Linked DNA regions of Homo sapiens: region 1 is linked to region 2. Evidence: fine-mapped expression QTL. A gene starts in region 2. The other region holds a variant in brackets. All regions are shown on one strand. Distances are from middle to middle.

Region 1 (2,909 bases), 22 kb after region 2:
AGTGAGACTAGGGATGGCTTGGGGAGAGGATCGGGGTGGCTGGGGACGGAGTGGGTGGGAGATTTGCCTTACACTCTTTTATACTGTTGGAATATTGGTCCATGTTTATGTATTCCTTTATCAAATAATAATTGCATCTATTGCAAAATAGATCATCCTGCTAGGAAATATATGGGCAGGAAATATAAAGAGAAACAGAATATTTACATAGTATCAGTGTATCTTCCTATAAGGTATTCGTTAATTACAAAGAGAAAAATGGTAACTTTACAGTAGGGAAAACTGGCAGACACCACCTTCACCAAATGATCACAGTGAACATTGCTAATAGTGGGGCAAGTCGGCAGGCATCATGGGCCCCCTGATGGGACGCACTGTGAAGGACAAAGCGTCACTGATGCGGTGTTCTTGCCACAAGTGCCTGATCTGAATCCAAGCATAAAGAAATAACACAAAAATCCAAACAGAGGGACAATCTGCAAAACAACTGGTCTAAACTTTTCAAATAATGTTGATCATAAAAGTCAAAGAAACTGTTCCAGGCTGGGCACAGTGGCTTACACCTGTAATCCCAGCACTTTGAGAGGCCGAGGCAGATGGATCACCTGAGATCAGGAGTTCGAGACCAGCCTGGCCAACATGGTGAAACCCTGTCTCTACTAAAAATACAAAAAATTAGCCAGGCATAGTGGCGAGCGCCTGTAATCCTAGCTACTCAGGAGGCTGAGGCAGGAGAATCGCTTGAACCCAGAGGCGGAGGTTGCAGTGAGCCAAGATGGTGCCATTGCACTCCAGCCTGGGCAATAAGAGTGAAACTCCATCTTCAAAAACCAAAACAAAACAAAACAAAAAACTGGCCTAAACTCTTCAAATAATGTCAGCCATAAAAGCCAAAGAAACTGTTCCACGCTGGGTACAGTGGCTCACGCCTGTAATCCCAGCACTTCGGGAGGCCGAGGCAGGTGGATCACTTGAGGCCAGGAATTCGAGACCAACCTGGTCAACGTGGTAAAACTAAAAAAATACAAAAATTAGCTGAACGTGGTGGCAGGCGCCTGTAATTCCTGCTACTCGGGAGACTGAGGCAGGAGAATCACTTCAAC[C/T]TGGGAGACAGAGGTTGCAGTGAGCCGAGGTGGCACCACTGCACTCCAGCCTGGGCAACAGAGCAAGACTCTGTCTCAAAAAAAAGAAACTGCTCCAGATAAGACTAAAAAGAAGACTAAAGAGACATAAACATTAAATACAACATGTGTCCTGGACTGGTTACTGAGTGGGTGGGGTGGGGGGGTAGAAATCTTTTTGTTTATTTGCTACAAAGGACATTAGTAGAACTGAAAAAATTTCAATAGGTCTATAAGATAGACAATAGCATTGTATCAGTGTCCTGATTTTTCTATCTGTCCTGCGATTTTGTAAGAGAATATTCTTGTTTTTAGAAATATACATGGGATAATTAACTTAGAGGTAAAGAGTCAACATGTCTGCAACTTATTTCCAACAATTCAGGCACTGGACAAAAATATATGCTGAGAGAGAATGAAAAAGCAAAGAATGCAAAATGTTAACATTTAAGGAATCTGGGTGATGGTATGTAGGAATTCTTTGTATTATTATTGCAAACTTTCTGTAAGTCTGAAATTATTTCAAATAAAAATTCAGGTATAAATAGAGTCATTGGCATAGCTGACATGCCAATGCCGTGATGTTCATGTGTTGTGTTAAGTGCTTGGCACATATGATCAAATTTCATCCTTGTAACTAGCCCATGAGGAAGGTGTAGCTATTTCTCTTCTTTATGCAGATGAGAATCTTGGGGCACAAGGTGGTTAAACAACTTGCTCAAGGTCACACAGCTGGAACAGATGATGCCCAGGGACTCTTCTTCAGCATCATCGGATAGCTCTGGGAACAAAGGGGCCTAGGAATCAGAATTCCATGATATGAATCCAGGGCTGTGAATTGTTTTCTCAGCACTGGGATTGTGCTGTTATTGGAATGCAGCCTTGATGTCATTATTCACCCTTCCGTCAAATATTCACTCATTGATCTGTCCAACCACATGTACTGAGCACCCACTGTCAGCCAGACACTGGAGCTGTAAAGGTGAGTGACTGGGCACGAGCTTATAGAGCACCCACCATTTACCAGGCTCTGGGCTCAGCATGGCGGTTAAAGAGATGAGCCAGACCCATCCCTGTCCTCCAGGAGCTCACTGGCTAGCAGGTGAGCCAACCAGAATAGAGACATGTAAAGGGCTGTGGGAACCCCAAGAAGTGAAAGGCTGGAAAAGGTTCCATTGAGGAGAGGGCCTTTAGGCCAGGTTTTGATGGATGTGTAGGAGTTCCTAAAATGGGGAAAGGAGCACTCTTTTTTTTTTTTTTTTTTTTTTTTTGTGACGGAGTCTCTAGCTCTGTTGCCCAGGCTGGAGTGTAGCGACATGATCTCAGCTCATTGCAACCTCTGCCTCCCAGGTTCAAGCGATCCTCCCACCTCAGCCGCCCAAGTAGTTGGGATTACAAGCACCTGCCACCACGCCTGGCTAACTTTTGTGTTTTTAGTAGAGACGGGGTTTCACCATGTTGGCCAGGCTGGTCTCGAACTCCTGACCTCAGGTGATTGTCCCACCTCGGCCTCCCAAAGTGCTGGGATTATAGGCATGAGCCACTGCACCTGGCAAAAAGGGCACCCTTAATGGAAGAAACAGCACAAGCAAAGGCTCAAAGTAGGAACAAGTAGGTTTCTGGGATCAGGTGTGGCCTGGAGTGACTGGAGCACCGTGAGAAACGTAGGGAAATGAGATTAGAGAAGCAGCAAGCCCAGCTAGGGAAGGACCTTAGGTGCCAGACAGTTGTTATAATTAAGCCCCGGAGAGTCCAGTTAAATATTTCCTTCTTCTTCTTTCCTCTCCT
Region 2 (2,909 bases):
TCCAAACATTTTATTATGTGAGAAAACAAACCTTCTTATTGCTTAAGCCATTTTGAATTGGGCCATAGATATCTTAACACAGAGAATTTGATACCAGGAAATGAGGCCTCCCTGGGTACACCATGATGATAGAATCAGGCCAGAGCTCCACTTTTCCACTCTAGAAACTGTTATCCTGCCATTCTTACTTCCTGTAATGAGGAAGATGTTTTAGAAGGGATAACTTCCCTCTTGATGAAATTCTCTAATTCTGAATAATTCTGGGGCTGAGGTGTGGGTGTCAGTTCTACTTCTTGAAATAAAGTATCATTTAGGTGCGCACGGGAATTATGTTTCGAAAGGGAAAGGCTGGAGTCTTGGTGTCAGTGTTCTAAGGTTTTGTGAGAGACTAAGAACCCAAAATAAATGATCTTCAACAGCAAAATGGATGTTATGCAATTCACAGAGCACTATGAGCACTCTCTCAATTCACACAACTTTGAGTGATGGGCAGCATGACTTCATTTTACAGACGGGGTTCAGAAAGTGTCAGCAACTGGTGGAAGGCAAAGTAGAAACTCCTGGCTCCCTCCTTCGTCTCCAGTTTTCTCCAGCTGGCAGGGTAAGTATGCATTTCTCCATGTTCGTGCCATTCAGGTTGAGAAGGAAGACAAGCAAACCAGACATGCTTGTCTTCGACCGAGTCTGGGATCGTCCACCTTCCTGCTTGGAGTTGGTGGTTAAGTGGCCCCACAGTTTGGACTCGTGTGACCTGACTTTCATTTCAGCTGACCTTGAACAGCGGGTCTATAACTGCACCTACTTCCAGTAGTGTTGTAATGACACAAACAGACAGTGTGGAACTTGAAGGCAGGGCCCACCCATTGTCAGCGCGACTCCTGAGGGCTCCGTGTGACAGTCACTGTTGCTGAACCAAGGCAGCCAACGGTGGGGTAGAAGGCGGACTCTGGAGCCAGACCGTCTGGATTTGAACGCGGATTCGGCCACTTACTAGTTCCGTGATCTTGGGTACATCACTTAAACCTGTGTCTCAGTCTCCTCTTCTGTAAAATGGGAATAACAGTCATACCTTCCTTGCAGGGTTGTTTTGAGGTTCAGATACGTTAATACACGTGCAAAATGTTCGGAACGACTCCAGACACAGCCGGCGCCAGACTGGAAGTGGAACCGCTGGTGGGGATCATAACCTCGCTGGCTAGGAACCCCAGCAGCGGGGCAGCAGCGCACCGCGGGCTTTGCCGACTCACCCTGGCTGGGCAGGTCCGCCGCGCTCTCCCCCGCCCCCGCCCCCGCGGCCTAAGTCGGCCCGGCCGGTGCGTCACCCGCGCCCCTCCCGCCCCGCGACCTGCAAACTCACCCTGAGTCAGCCCGCCCGGGCGTTTCCACTCCCCGGACGCCGCGCGGCGCAGGGGAGGCGAGAGGCGCCCCCCGGTGGAGAGCCTGAGCCCCGCGCGAGTCTGGCGGCACCTGGCGAGCGGAGCCGGAGTCGGGCTGGGGACCGCGGGGTCGAGGCCGGACCGCGGCGGGGTCGGGGGAGAAACGCGCGCTGCCCTGGCACGGGCCCCCCCCCCCGGCCGCGCGGAATGGTATGGCCCGGCCGGAGTTAAGGCCGGGGGGAGGCGGCGAGTCCCGCGGCGGCGGCGACGATGGGGCTGCGTGCAGGAGGAACGCTGGGCAGGGCCGGCGCGGGTCGGGGGGCGCCCGAGGGGCCCGGGCCGAGCGGCGGCGCGCAGGGCGGCAGCATCCACTCGGGCCGCATCGCCGCGGTGCACAACGTGCCGCTGAGCGTGCTCATCCGGCCGCTGCCGTCCGTGTTGGACCCCGCCAAGGTGCAGAGCCTCGTGGACACGATCCGGGTGAGGCCTCGGGGAGTCCAGCCAACCGGAGGGAGGGCTTCGGAGGAGGGAGGTTGCCGGAGGAGGGAGGTCGCTGCGATGGACGCGAGACGGACTGGTTCCGGGCCCAGCCGGAGCTCAGCCTCTGCTGTGTGACCTTGAGCAAGTAGCTGGGCCTCTCTGGGCCTCTGTTTCCTCACTTGAGCAAGGAGGGAATTGGGCGAGATAATTAAAGTAGTGATGATAACGCTTATAACGCTAGTGCTTGCAGTGGTCCAGGAACTGCAGGAAGTCCCTCAGTTTCCTATGCCAACCCTAGGAGGTAGATAGTGGCTCTTTTGCAGACGAGAACTGAGGCAGGGAAGATTTCAGCGGCTTGACTAAGATCAGGCGCTTAAAAAGTGACACGGCTGGAATTCACACCCAGGCAGCCTGGGCCCCACTGCCCAGCACATGGCCACCGCACTACCCGGAGATAAGCCGTGGGCTCTCATGGCTGTGACAGTCAGTGACAGTGGGACTAGGTGTGTCATATCTGCTGGGAGGCCCTTGTCTGAATGGGAAGTGGGAGAGGTCAAGGGTCAGCTCCACCACTGAGGAAGGGTGTTAAGAATACCGGAGTGATTCTGGCAGGAACTTGGGGGCCCCGCAAGAACAGGTGTCAGGTTAGGCCTACATAACGTTGTGTCCCCTTCCCCCGACCCTTGGAAGGTGAGCACATGAGATCCCTAAGCCCCACCCAGCACCTCTACAGCCACCCCCGATAACTTTCAGTCCTAGTATTTACACTAGTGTCCTCACTGCCTGGAGCCACTTCCCCAGACAACCACAGGGCCTGCTCCCCTGCCTGGTTCAGCTCTCTGCCTCCTTGATCACCCTTGGTCAGAGTCACTGGCCTCTCTAGCTCTCCCCTTAGCCCGAGATGTTTTTCAGGATACCACTTATGTCCACCAGAAATTATATTATACATCTATTTGTGTTGCATTTTATTTTCTGTCTTCCTGACCTCACGTGCACTCCACAAGGGCGAGGACCTCGTCCCATCTTATCTGTTGCCACAATAGTAGCACGGCG

What was found.
Region 1: its variant is fine-mapped to the expression of SRXN1 in whole blood (TOPMed, PIP 0.98).

The regions. Positions count from the first base shown.
Region 1 is chr20:630,076-632,984 of GRCh38, reverse strand. No RefSeq gene overlaps it. Among named protein-coding and RNA genes, the nearest start is that of TCF15, 21 kb to the right of the region's middle. The variant C/T (reference allele first, on the strand shown) is at 1,104.
Region 2 is chr20:651,923-654,831 of GRCh38, reverse strand. It overlaps SRXN1 (sulfiredoxin 1), which reads left to right and starts at 1,632. Exons shown (of 2, transcript NM_080725.3): 1 at 1,632-1,856. The coding sequence starts at 1,647. It overlaps LOC107985423 (a long non-coding RNA gene), which reads right to left and starts at 1,879. Exons shown (of 2, transcript XR_001754452.2): 1 at 1,358-1,879; 2 at 1-1,043. RefSeq lists a silencer at 1,195-1,754.